Linked DNA regions of Homo sapiens. The protein of the gene in region 1 purifies or fractionates together with the protein of each later gene. This does not show direct contact. Each region holds a gene or a part of one and is shown on either strand. Other genes may lie near its edges.

The links. Proteins that work in one complex are often made in the same cells at the same time.
Region 2: the proteins of AARS1 (region 1) and IARS1 fractionate together in Homo sapiens (co-fractionation; 2 studies listed by BioGRID). This does not show direct contact.

Annotation. Positions count from the first base shown.
Region 1 is NC_000016.10:70,279,481-70,286,506, reverse strand, and holds part of AARS1 (alanine--tRNA ligase, cytoplasmic), read left to right. Parts: intron 1-3,722; 5' UTR 3,723-3,743; coding exon 3,744-3,887; intron 3,888-7,026. UniProt on the Homo sapiens protein: Catalyzes the attachment of alanine to tRNA(Ala) in a two-step reaction: alanine is first activated by ATP to form Ala-AMP and then transferred to the acceptor end of tRNA(Ala). Also edits incorrectly charged tRNA(Ala) via its editing domain.
Region 2 is NC_000009.12:92,262,678-92,269,703, forward strand, and holds part of IARS1 (isoleucine--tRNA ligase, cytoplasmic), read right to left. Parts: intron 5,624-7,026; coding exon 5,497-5,623; intron 2,877-5,496; coding exon 2,803-2,876; intron 2,447-2,802; coding exon 2,252-2,446; intron 379-2,251; coding exon 292-378; intron 1-291. UniProt on the Homo sapiens protein: Catalyzes the specific attachment of an amino acid to its cognate tRNA in a 2 step reaction: the amino acid (AA) is first activated by ATP to form AA-AMP and then transferred to the acceptor end of the tRNA.

The DNA.
Region 1 (7,026 bases):
TGCCTGTAGTCCTAGCTACTCCGGAGGCTGAGGTGGGAGGAACACCTGAGCCTGGAAGGCCAAGTGATTGCACCATTGCCTGCGCTCCAGCCTGGGTGACAGAGAGGGAGACCCTGTCTCAAAAAAAAAAAAAAAAAAAAAAAATTCCTGTGGAGTGGCTGGAGCCACAGCGTGATTTAAGGCACCCAAGACCTTTACAGCTCCTGTTAGTAAGTGAAACCTGAGGTTCTGCCTTTGTGCTACCTCTGTATCCCATATAGCCCTCCAGTGAATAAATCAATGAGTTTATGTTGAATAAATATATTGAATTTATATCGAATAAATATAAATTTAGATTGAATAAATAAATGGGGGTAAACAAATGAATGTGGGGATACAGCTTTTAATAGTTTCAGCCTTCATAGACTCATAGTTAATATATTCAGTCCTTTTACACAATACTGCAGTTAATTCTGCATATGATAGTCTCCTCAGGAAGGACATAGGCTGTCATTCATTTTGATTCTTGGCACATAGTATGCATTCATTATGGTGAATTAGTAAGCAAAAATGGGAAATTCATGTGTCTTTTGGAAAGTAGCTGGAGTCAGGATCTCCTGTTCACTTTGTACATCTCTATTGTATTTTCCTCATAAGGAGAAAACTTTGGCTGGGCATGGTGGCTCATGCCATCCCAACACCTTGGGAGATTGAGGCCAGGAGTTCGAGACCAGCGTGGGCAGCATGGCAATACTCCATTTATAACAAAAACAGAAATTAGCTGGGCGCGGTGGCTCATGCCTGTAATCCTAGCACTTTGGGAGGCTGAGGCTGGCAGATCACCTGAGGTCAGGAGTTCGAGACCAGGCTGAGGAACATGGTGAAACCCTGTCTCTATTAAAAATACAAACATTAGCTGGGTGTGGTGGCACTTACCTGTAATCCAGGTTACCCAGGAGGCTGAGGCAGGAGAATTGCAGGAACTTGGGAGGTGGAAGCTGCAGTGAGCTGAGATTGCGCCACAGCGCTCCAGCCTGGGCGACAGAGTGAGACTCTGTCTCAAAAAAGAAAAAAAAAGAAATTAACTGGGCATGCTGGTGTGCAACTGTAGTCCCAGTTACTTGGGAGGCTGAGGCAGGAGGATTACTTGAGCCTCGGAGTTTAAGGCTGCTTAAGTGATTGTCCCACTGCACTCCAGTCTGGACAGAACCAGAAAAAAAGAAGAAAACTTTCAGCTAAACAACTTAAAAGTAATATTATCCATTCTGTTCCTTCAAGGTTTTCCTTTTTTTTTTTTTTTAGACGGAGTCTCCCTCAGCCACCCAGGCTGGAGTGCAGTGGCGCAATTTCGGCTTACTGCAACCACTATTTCCCAGGTTCAAGCGATTCTCCCATCTCAGCCTTCTGAGTAGCTGGGATTACAGGCACTCGCCATCATTCCCGGCTAATTTTTGTATTTTAGTAGAGATGGGGTTTCACCATATTGGCCAGGCTGGTCTTCAACTCCTGACCTCAGGTGATCCACCCACCTTGGCCTCCCAAAGTGCTGGGATTACAGGTGTGAGCCACCGCACGTGGCGTAACGTTTTCCATTTTATAGATTGCTTCCAAATACAGTATAGCTTTTGATCCTCACAACACCTCAGTTGAGTAGGCAGGGTAGATACTGCTTTTTTACAGAAAAGGAACTGAACTCAGGCAAAAGTGAATTAAGGTTACGGTTGGGTCTGGAATTCCAGAGACTTTTTGATAATAATGATAATATTGTGAATAAGATGGTTCTCATTTTTCTAGACACAGCAGTTTGTGGCACTACAGCACCATGCCAGTGATCAGCACTCTCACCAAAGCCTGTCACTTCTCCCCAGCCTACCTCTCAGGGAAATCGTAATATCTGTGAAAGAGCTGTTTTTGTTTTTGTTTGTTTGTTGACACAAGGTCTCTGTCGCCCAGGCTGGAGTGCAGTGGCATGATCTTGGCTCACTGCAAGCTCCGCCTCCTGGGTTCACGCCATTCTCCTGCCTCAGCTTTCCGAGTAACTGGGACTACAGGCGCCTGCCACCATGCCCGGATTATTTTTTGTATTTTTAGTAGAGACGGGGTTTCACCATGTTAGCCAAGATAGTCTTGATCTCCTGACCTCGTGATCCGCCTGCCTCGGCCTCTCAAAGTGCTGGGATTACAGGCGTGAGCCACCGCGCCCGGCCATTTTTGTTTTTTTTGAGACGGAGTCTTGCTCTGTCACCCAGGCTGGAGTGCAGTGGCGCGATCTCGGCTGACTGCAACCTCCACCTCCTGGGTTCGTGCCATTCTCCTGCCTCAGCCTTGTGAGTAGCTGGGACTACAGGCGCCTGCCACCACGCCCGGCTAATTTTTTGTATTTTTTTTCTAGTAGAGACAGAGTTTCACCATGTTAGCCAGGATGTTCTGGATCTCCTGACCTCGTGATCCACCCACCTGGCTAATTTTTTTACTATTTGTACTGACAAGATCTTGCTATGTTGCCCAGGGTGGTCTCAAACTCCAGGGCTCAAGCAATTCTGCCACCTCGGTCTCCCAAAGTGCTGGGATTACAGGCGTGAGCCACCGCGCCCAACTTGTGAAAGAGCTTTGAAGTCATAAAGTTTTTTCTCTCTCCACCAGTTCCCTTGTACTTTCACTTTCAGTAAGCTGTGCCTCCAAAGTGGGGCTACAGCATCCCCACTCCCTGGTAATCTAATGGCTGGAAGGCAGCCGTTTGCTGTTAGGGTTCTTGGGGGATGTAGGCTACATAGAGGTAGGTACATTCCTGCTACATACAGGTGGTCCCTTGTACAGATAGGCCCATCCCCAGGACTATTGCTGCTGACAGCCGCCTCACCATGACATCAGGCCAAACCTAGAGACCCTGACTTTGGGGCTAGTGGAACTTTGCAGTTCTAGGCGTGTACATTAACACAGAGCTGAAGGGATCTTTAGAGATAATCTCATATGGACCCCTCCTTTTTTTGGTGAAGTGACTCCCTCAGGACTTGAAGCTAGAACTCAAACCCCGGTCTCCTGAGCCTCTCTCCCTCTTCCCCAGTTGGACTAAACTGAGGGTTTTTCTCCCCCTTTTTTTCTTTTTTTTTTTCCTTCTTTTTTTGTTTTTTTGAGACGGAGTCTCTCTCTGTCGCCAGGCTGGAGTGCAGTGGTGTGGTCTTGGCTCACTGCAACCTCCACCTCCTGGGTTCAAGCGATTCTCCTGCCTCAGTCTCGCAAGTAGCTGGGATTACAGGCACGCACCACCATGCCCAGTTACTTTTTGTATTTTTAGTAGAGATGGGATTTCACCATGTTGGCCAGGCTGGTCTTGAACTCCTGACCTTGTGATCTGCCCACCTTGCCCTCCCAAAGTGTTGGGATTACAGGCGTGAGCCATCGTGCCTGGCTGTCCCTCTTTTTTTCTAATTCCTAGTCTCGGGCCTGACACAGAGCAGATGCTCGATACATATTTGTTTAATGAACAAACATCCAGCAGCAGTGTGCTTGGTGTGCTGGGGTGTTGAACCTCTTGAGGTTGGCATGGGAAGGAAGAACAGATGGGGCTGCTGTCTGCTGGTGATGATGATTTTAGCCTTGGACATTACAACATAGAGGTTTTAGGATCAAACAGCTCACCTGAGTCGTGCTTTGACTTGGCTTGAGAAGCCAGAAGTCTTGTGTAATGTGTACTTTGACTTTCAATTCCCTTAATTTTCCTTCATTTTTTTTTCTTTGATTAGTTCTTTGGGGTGACTTTCAAGATGGACTCTACTCTAACAGCAAGTGAAATCCGGCAGCGATTTATAGATTTCTTCAAGAGGAACGAGCATACGTATGTTCACTCGTCTGCCACCATCCCATTGGATGACCCCACTTTGCTCTTTGCCAATGCAGGCATGAACCAGGTAAGGGTTTTTCCTTTTTTCTTGGCTTTTGGTTCACATAAGAGGCAGCAGAGCCCAGATAAAAGCACAGCCCTGGGGTCAGACCGATTCTGGTTCTGTCACTCCCTGTGTGATCTTGTGAAACTTTATGTGATGGGCCTCAGTTTCTTTGCAAAATGAGGAATAATATTGCGGGCCTGTAGGTATTAGTGAGAAGCGAATAAGATAACACATACAAAATGTTTAGCACGGTATTTCGCACATAGTACGTAGGTACTCAAACATTAGCTTTTTTTTTTTTTTTTTTTTCCTGAGACGGAGTCTCGCTCTGTCATCCAGGCTGGAGTGCAGTGGTGCAATCTCGGCTCACTGCAAGTTCTGCCTTCTGGATTCACGCCATTCTCCTGCCCCAGCCTCCCGAGTAGCTGGGACTACAGGTGCCCGCCACCATGCCTGGCAAATTTTTTTGTATTATCATTATTTTTTTTTGAGACGGAGTCTTGCTCTGTCGCCCAGGCTGGAGTGCAGTGGCGTGATCTGTGCTCACTGCAAGCTCCGCCCCCCAGGTTCATGCCATTCTCCTGCCTCAGCCTCCCAAGTAGCTGGGACTACAGGTGCCCACCACCAAGTACAGCTAATTTTTTTGTATTTTTAGTAGAGATGGGGTTTCACCGTGTTAGCCAGGATGGTCTCAATCTCCTGACCTTGTGATCCATCCGCCTCGGCCTCTCAAAGCGCTGGGATTACAGGCATGAGCCACCACGCCCGGCCAGCTATTATTATTTTTTAGAGAGAGGGTCTCACTCTGTCACCCTTGCTGGAGTGCAGTGGCATGATCCTAGCATGCTGTAGCCTCAGACTCCTGGGCTTAAGTGATCCTCTTATGTCAGCCTTCCAAGTAGCTAGGACTACAGGCATGCTCTACCATGTCAGCTTTTAAAATTATTTTATTTATTTTTTAATTTATTTATTGTTTTGAGACAGAGTCTCGCTGTCGTCCAGACTGGAGTGCAGTGGCACGATCTTGGCTCACTGCAATCTCTGCCTCCCGAGTTCAAGCGATTCTCCTGCCTTGGCCTCCGAAGTAGCTGGAACTACAAGCGTGCGCCACCACACCTGGCTAATTGTTGTATTTTTAGTAGAGACGGGGTTTCACCATGTTGGCCAGGTTGTTCTCGAACTCCTGACCTCAGGTGATCCACCCACCTCAGCCTCCCAAAGTGCTGGGATTATAGACGTGAGCCACCTTGCCTGGCCTAAATTTATTTATTTATATGCAGAGATGGGGGTCTCACCAAGTTGTTCAGGCTGGTCTCGAGCTCATGGCCTCAAGTAATCCTCCTGCCTTAGCTGCCCAAAGTGGTGTGATTACAGGTGTGAGCTACCACGCCCAGCCCACCTAATGCCTTTCTTGAAATTATTGCCACCAGTGCCATTTTGGATCCATTGCTGAAGAAAATTTATTAGTTAGTACGGTTTATTTGGGGAAGTTGAATTAAAAATATATTTGAGGCTGGGCGCAGTGGCTCACACTTGTAATCCCAACACTCTGGGAGGCCGAGGCAGATAGGTCACTTGAATCCAGAAGTTCGAGACCAGCCTAGGCAACATGGTGAAACCCTGTCTCTTATTAAAAATACAAAAAATTAGCCAGGTGTGGTGGTGCATGCCTGTAGTCCCAGCTTCTGGGGAGGCTGAGGCGGGACGATTGCTTGAGCCTGGGAGGTCAAGGCTATGGTGATCCCTGATCATACCACTGCACTTCAGCCTGCACAACAGAGTGAGACCCTGTCTCAAAAAAGGAAAGAAAAGAAAAAGACATTTGAAAGGTTTATCGTGAGAGAAAAGGGTTAACTCTTAAAATGATGAAAGCATGACAAGTTTATAAAGGAGTTTAAGAGGAGTTTGTCAGCATGTCTGTGACACTAAACAGTACTTCCCAGGCTGGTCGTGGCTGAAGGGGGTTCAGGTTAGATGGTGCTCTCAGCGCTTTCCTGTGATGGTTCTCTTGGAGCCCTGCTCCCCCGGGGCATCTGCAGCCCTTAGGATGCTTCTCACTCTGGGATGAGTTGACATTTTCTTTTCTCTTAGGTGTCTTTTCTGGCATGGAAAGTTAGAAACAATGGGGACATATTCTGCCTCTTATAATATTAACTATAAAATTATGAAACATGGGGCACAGTGCGCCTGTAATTACATCTACTCAGGAGGCTGAGACGGGAGGATCACTTGATCCTGGAATTACAAACCAGCTTGGGCAACACAGTGAGACTGGTCTCCCAAAAAAATTATGCTACTTGGGAGGCTGAGGCAGGAGAATCGCTGGAACCTGGGAGGCAGAGGTTGCAGTGAGCCGAGATCACGCCACTGCACTCCAGCCTGGGCAACAGAGTGAGACTCCGTCTCAAAAAAGAGAAAATTATGGGCCAGGCACAGTGGTTCATGCCTGTAATTCCAGCATTTTGGGAGGCCAAAGTAAGAGGATTGCTTGAGCCCAAGAGTTGGAGAGGAGCCTGGGCAACATAGGAAGACCCTGTCTGAAAGGAAAAGAGAAAAATTAAAGAAAAATTAAAGCAAAAGAAAAATTGAAAAATTAGCTGGTGGTGGCTCACACCTGTAGTTCCAGCCTCTTGGGAGGCTGAGGTGGGAGTATTGCTTGAGCCCAGGAGTTGAGGTGAGCCGTGATCGTGCCACTGGACTCCAGGCAGGGTGACAGAGCAAGACCCTGTCTCAAAATGGAAAAAAAAGAAAAATATTTTCAGTTATGTGTGAGTCCTATGCATATACCTAGAATTGGAGGCATTAATTTTAGGTGGTCTCATTCAACGGGATAGGCTTTTGGAACACTGGAAAGCTACTGTTTCTATTCAGACATACCTGGGTGCAAGCTTTGTCACCTTCCACATGAGCCGCCTGAACAAGAACCAGGGAGTACAGTGTTTGTAAACTTTTCTTTTTTTTTTTTTTTTTGTTTTTTTTTGAGACAGAGTTTTGCTCTTGTTGCCCAGGCTGGAGTGCAATGGTGAAATCTCGGCTCACTGCAGCCTACGCCTCCTGGATTCAAGCGATTCTCCTGCTTCACCCTCCCGAGTGGCTAGGATTATAGGTGTCTGCCACCACACCTGGCTAATTTTTATATTTTTAGTAGAGACAGGGTTTC
Region 2 (7,026 bases), on another chromosome or scaffold:
GATTAAATAAGATCTATAAGCAAAAGTATTTCATAAAGTGCTAAGTTTAGTAAATGCTATTTTATTACTAGTAATATCACTAGTAGCATTATGTTACTAGCAGTAGCACAATCTGAAAGTCCTCCCCTTCCTCCTCCTCCATCAGGCTTAGCTGTCACACACTCCTTCTTGAGAAACAGTGGAGACAAAGCTCCACCTGTCACTACAACAAAGTTGACCGCTCTCACGCACTCCTTCTTAAGAAACAGTGGAGACAAAGTTCCACCCGTCACTACAACAAAGTTGACCTACCTTGCCAGGACAAGCCCATTCACAATTACGTTCTTGAAAGGCGGTTGTCCAAAGAGGGCCGTGGCCAGCACCAGCAGGGTATAAAACCTGAAAAAAAACCCCAAACAGTTCAATAAAAATAGAAATGAAGTCCAAGCATAAGAAAGAAACTGTATTTATTCATTGAATTTCTATTTTTGATAAGTCACACTTCTTGAGAATCACTTAAAGCAATGATTCTTAATCCTGGTTACTGGAGACCAATCAAATTACTGTCTAAGATTTGAAAGAAGCATTGAAATAAACGTCTGGAATGATTTACTGACCATTTCTCTGTTACCAGAGCTCCCAGGAAGTCTGTGTGGAGAGCCACATGGCAGCACTGGGTGGCCTCTCAGGACCACCCAGAAGCACCTAGCTGAAGATGAAGGATGGGTTTTGAATTTGGCACAAGATCATATGGAAAAGACAATTTGATGACAAAAGATGCAAAATGCACTCTCACCCAAAAGTGATAAGGCAGACTAGAAAATGCTTTTATTCTGTAAAATGTTATGTACCTCATTTATGTGCTACCTAGCTTGTTTCCCAAATGAACTCATATCCCTGACCACTGTCCTGGGGGTGATGCTTTCCTGCCTCTCTTACCTAGTCCTGCACTCTGAGAACATCAAGGGACATGAGCTGAGGAGACCAGACCCCATAGTTAACATAAACACTGATCCAGATATCCCTCCCACTTCTAAAGGAGAGTTGGGAGGAGCCCTGGTGCCCAGGAGAGGTAGCCCAGGCCTCAGGAATGGAGAAGGAGGCAGGCACCAAGGACACGGGATCCACATGAGGACTGTTACCAGCTAACAGACTTTGCTACTCCTCAAAGGAACAAGCTCATTGGTAAGGCATCTACCCCTTTCTAAAAACAGAATTTGTGCTGGGTAGCTGTTCCTATAGACAAAAAGGACTGGAATCTGAAGACAGCACATTCCAGAACATGAAGACTTGAATTCAATGATTACCCAAAGCTGTCAAAGAGAGAAAATGACACCAACAATTCCTTTAACACACCCCTGCAGAAACATTACTGTGAATGTATAATTAAAACCTGGGCTGGGCGCAATGGCTCACGCCTGTAATCCCAGCACTTTGGGAGGCTGAGACGGGTGGGTCACTTGAGGTCAGGAGTTCGAGACCAGCCTGGCCAACATGGTGAAACCCAGTCTCTACTAAAACTACAAAAATTAGCTGGGCATGGTGGTGCATGCCTGTAGACCCAGCTACTTAGGAGGGTGAGGCAGAAGAATTGCTTGAACCCAGGAGGCGAAGGGTGCAGTGAGCCGAGATCACACCCCTGCACTCCAGCCTGGGCAGCAGAGTGCAAGATTCTGTCTCAAAAAAAAAAAAAAAAGTAAATAAAGCCTGGGCCAGCAAAGCCAATCCATGGAAAGAAAGTAATTCACCTTCTTCCAATTAAGGAACTGTTTTACATAAGGCACCAGATAAAAATCAATGCCCAAATCCTCTCTCATATGTATATTTTTTAAAAATCTGGATTTTTTTAGAATGTTGATTTATAAGGCTAGCCTCAATATCTGAGCACATTACCAACTATCCCTCAAATTTCTAGCACCCAAACTACTGTCTTTTATGCAAATACTCAAACATTTGAGTAAATGATCTGACGTAAGCTAAGAACACATAACTTTTTTTATCATTTTAACATCCAGTGTAACACATATATTCCAAAATGCCAGTGAGATCATTGAAATTGTAAAACTACAGCCCTATTGTAGTGGGAGAGTCCTACTCAAAAGGCACTTTAATGTCCGTGCTTGGTGGTGGAGGGGAGAGGGCAGGAATGTAGCCTGTCTTATTTGCCACAATCTCTCCATCACCCAGTAGATAAATGGCAGTGACTTAGTAAAATACTCCCTAAATAAAATAAAATCAATAAAACACGTGATGAAAGAACAAGGAGGCATACCATCCTCTGGTTTGGTCGATGCCCTCGGCAATGAAATCTGCAGGAAAAGCATCCTCAAACTCCCTCTTGTTTTCAAACGGGTAATGAACCTGAGCATAGGGCATGCTGCCACTCTCAAACCAACAGTCAAACACTTCAGAGATGCGGTGCAAGGATCCCTTCCCACAGCGTGAAGGAATGGTCAGGTGGTCAACACTAACAAACAGAAAAGTAGTCATTTCTATTAACTGTAAGCATAACAGAACTTGCAGTTTAATTGCTAATAGGAAACACAAAACCCTGACAAGATATTATACACATTTGCAAACAGAAATATCAGCAATTCTCAAAGGCTTTCAGAGAGCACCATGAATCCTCCATCTGAAAGGTTATGCACCATTCACCTCACATTTCACAAGGACAGAGGCCACAATACTGCAATATGACATGAGTCATCAGCAAAGTAATTCAGCAAGCTAGTCACTTCCATGTGTGGCTCTGTAATCTGCTAGAGACCAGGTCTTAATAGGAGAATCGTAAAACTGAAGTGAATCGAACATTTAGAAACTGACCTCTCTCTGTGGAGATCTGAGATCTTTGCTCCTGACAGTTCTTCAAGTTCCGCCACTGACCCAATGCATACCACCTGTCAAAAACAAAGTTCAATAGCAGGAGCTCCTTAGAGCCAAACAGAGCATACTGAGTTAATTTATATAGCATGCATGTTTACTTTGAGAGACTGATGATTTTCTTTTTCCTTTTTTTTTGAGATAGGGTCTCACTACCATTGCCCAGGCTGGAGTGCAGTGGCACAATCACAGCTCACTGCAGCCTCAGCTTCCTGGGCTCAGGTGATCCTCTCACCTAAGCCTCCCAAGTACCTGGGGCTACAGGCAGGCACCACCTCACCCAGCTAATTTTTTGTATTTTTAGTAAAGACAGGGTTTCGCCATGCTGCCCAGGCTGGTCTCAAACTCTTGGACTCGAGCTATCAGCCACCCTCAGCCTCCCAAAGTGCTGCGATTACAGGCGTGAGCCACCCAGCCTGAGACTGATGATTTAAAGGCACATTAACACACCAATCTGGGCCGAAGGATAGTATTTGCTAATGTGGCTTCTCTCTCATGAAAGACACAGCCTACTCTTAGTCTCTGAAGAGGCCAGGGTTGCCACTGCTCCTCTGTTTCCACCCCAGTATCAGAGGGAGTCCCTACCTAGAGAGAATCTTAAACATTCATAGCCATACTCTCAATGGATATTAAGGGTTTATTATGTGCAAATTGTCAAAGTAACTGGCATAAGTGAAACATCTTAGATTATTTCTCTAAGGCATTTTAGTTTCCTCCTGGCACCTGAATCTGGCTCATTAATCTAGAATCTTCCCAAGAAAAAGCTAGAGCTAAATTATAGTCATACAGTGCTTAATGGTGGGAATACATTCTGAGAAATGCATTGTTAGGGTGATTTCCTTAGGCAAACATCACAGACCTAGATGGGATGGCCTAAAACACAGCTAGGCTATATGGTGGAGCCTATTACTTCTAAGCTACAAACCTGTACAGCATGTGGCTGTACTGAATTCTGCAGGCAACTGTAACACAATGGTAAATGCTCTAGTTTTCATATGGTTTGTCCCCAGCAAATCTCAAGTTGAAATTTAATCCCCAGTGTGGCAGTATTGACAGATGGAGCCCGATGGGAGGCATCTGGGTCACAGGGTGGATCCCTCGTGAAGAGACCAATGCTCTCCTTCTGCAGTGAGTTAGTTCTCTCTCTATTAGCTCCTGTGAGAGCTGACTGTTGAAAAGAGCCTGCCCCCACCCCACCGCCCGTTTCTTCTCTTGCCATGTGATTTCTGCATACTCTGGCTCCTGTCCAGCCTTCCATCATAAGTGGATGTAGCCTGAGGTCCTCCCCACATGCAGATGTCTAGTCTTCAACTTTCCAGTCATGCAGAATCATAAGCCAAATAAACTACTTTTCTTTATAAATTATCCAGCCTCAGGTATTCCTTTGTAGCTACACTAAACAGACTAAAACAGGAAGTATTTGAGTTTCTAAACATTACAAAACACAGAAAAGGCACAGTAACCATATGGTATCATAATCTTGTGGGACCACTGTCGTATATGCGGTCTGTCATTGACTGAATGACATTATGTGGTGCATGACTATATTATGCTTGGACCCGATTAAAGCAATCAGACAAAGCCACAGGATGCTAGGATTATATCCAGGTAAAGAGCTGAGAGATGGGGCTAGCTGGGGCACTCAGAATGGAGGGATCATCTGACAAGGGCCACACCAGTAGGAACTGCTGTGCGTTCTCACCCAGGGAGCTTCTGATCCTAGTGAACACTGGTGGCCTCTTTCTCTGCCCTTCCTGTTCAGTCCTGAAAAGTCTTCTGATTCAGCTACTTCACTGTTGCCTTTCAGGTCCCTATGGGAGATTCACCAAGGTCCCCAGGGTGCTGCCGCTCATCACTGCAACAATGCTGTCAGCTTTGGACAGAAGGCCAAACACACAGATCTATCTGTATAGTAAGTCCTCGCCTGATGTCATTGAGAGGTCCCAGTAGCTGGAACTAAGTGGCGTGCACCACCATGCCTGTCTAATTTAACAAACATTTTTGTAGAGATGGAACCTCATTATGTTGCCTAGGCTGGTCTCAAATATCTGGTCTCAAGCGATCCTCCTGCCTTGGCCTCCCTAAGTGCTGCGATTACATGTGGGAGCCATCACACCCGGCCTAAAGTCAGTTATCAAGAACCTCTGTATGACATTAAGTGAGGACATAGTATATCCACATACATCTATATATCTACACACATCCTCTTATTCATTTGATTTTAGAAGTTAAAGGTCTGTAATGCTTTGGTAAATTTCTTTTCAAGTTTTCTTTTTTCATCATCTATAAAGTCAGTTTAACCATAAGCTAATAGTATACCTTAATGTAGGGGGAAGAAAAGACATCGGGGAAACACACAAAAAAAACATTTAAAGTGTGTATTTCCCTGAGAAAACTGTATCCTTTTATTTTTACAGAGGAAAGTTTTATAAATTGTATTTAATTCAAGGAAAAAAAGTTAAAAACCCCAGAAACAGATTATCTTATGTCATGATTCTAGAAAGGAATAAAGAGGAAAAAAGATGAAATAAGAAAGGGGCAAAGAAAAAAACACCCTATTCTTTTAAACCACATTCAGATTTCATGAACAAAATGCTTTAGCAAAAATCAACACAAGGAAATACTGCCATGCCTCACCTCCTCAAAGTCATCGCTGACCCACAGTGGGATGGGGGTGCCCCAGTATCTGTTTCTGGAAATTGTCCAGTCACGTGCATCTTTCAGCCAATTTCCAAATCGTTTTTCTCGTACCAACTCTGGGACCCTGCAATAAACAGATCACATAACCAATCACATAAAAATATGGAAAAATTCAACATGTAAATAATACCCACAGGAGCCTTTGTATAACGCTTTGTGGACCAAACACTCTGGAAACGTGGCGCTCACTGCAAAGAGAATGTCTTCTAAATGGACAGCATAGCACACACAACAGTTTGTGCTGCCATCAATGACCTACATCCAATAGATTACCCCACAGCACACAGGCCTCCCATGTCCTCCTCTTCAACTGGAGTACAGCTGCCACATACCTCTAACCAGTCACCTTAGCTTTAGCCAGCCTCATCCCATACAACTCTAGTCTTCACATTATCCTCACCATAGCAGTTTTTCTGAACTCATTAAGCAAAGGCCAACAGGCCAGGGGATTGGTAGCTGCTCTAGCAGCCCTCTCTATAGTCACCTCTCTGGTCATCCTTGGTCTTGAATTTCAGGCTCTGGCAATGAGGCAAGTTCCCTAGAATCCTTCTCACTTAACTGGCTTTGCCCATGCCTGCCCTCTGACACGCAGCCTGCCTGCCCTCTGACACGCAGCTTCCCTCCCTTCTGCATCCATCCTCTTGCATCCCTCCCACTCCCAGTACTCTTTATTCCTTGAGGTTCAGCTTTGCAGAAATCCTTTTCAAGCACAAGGCTGAGTCAGGGTAGGCTACCAGACCTCCCCTTCTTCTCTTGGGCACTGCAGTTACTGCCCTGTACTTCAAAGATCAGTTTATATGCCTGCACCCCCTCGAGGCTATCTTACTAATATTCTATATCTAGTATCTTACACATTAGGGGAACTAATTAGCTTACTAGCTCTAAAAATGAAAAGCTGTCTTTTGAGAAATCAGGACCACTCTGCTAAGAAATATTAGAAAGCTACAGTTTATAACTATTTCCTTTGCTGCCCTGAGATTCTCCCCATTCTCCTAAACTCAGATACAGTTTTCTAGAGTCTAGTTGGGTCCTTGTGAGAAGTTAAGAGTGGTGATTACTTTTCAAACTTGTAGTGAAAAACATTCATCTGAAATACACAGGTTCAAGCCTTGTTTCATTTTGTACCCAGAGGCTGAAATGATACTTCTTGGGCTATCACCTGCAGGACACATATCAGCTATGGAAAGCAAAGGCTTCTGTGCTTGGAGCTTATCCATACAGCCAAGCACAGGGTACATCATCCACTGCAGGACCAACAAGAGTAAGTACAAATGGCTTTTGCAGGTATATCTGAAAATAATGTTTACTCTGAAAATGACTATTATTGAAGGCTAGCAAACTCTGGCAGTACAGCCATATTTTTCCAAGGTCATTTCATTCCCTAAATCGAATAAATGGTGGTTTATCATTTCCAATGAGTTTAAAAAGAAAAATACTCCCTTACATACTTTATCACAAGAAGGATGT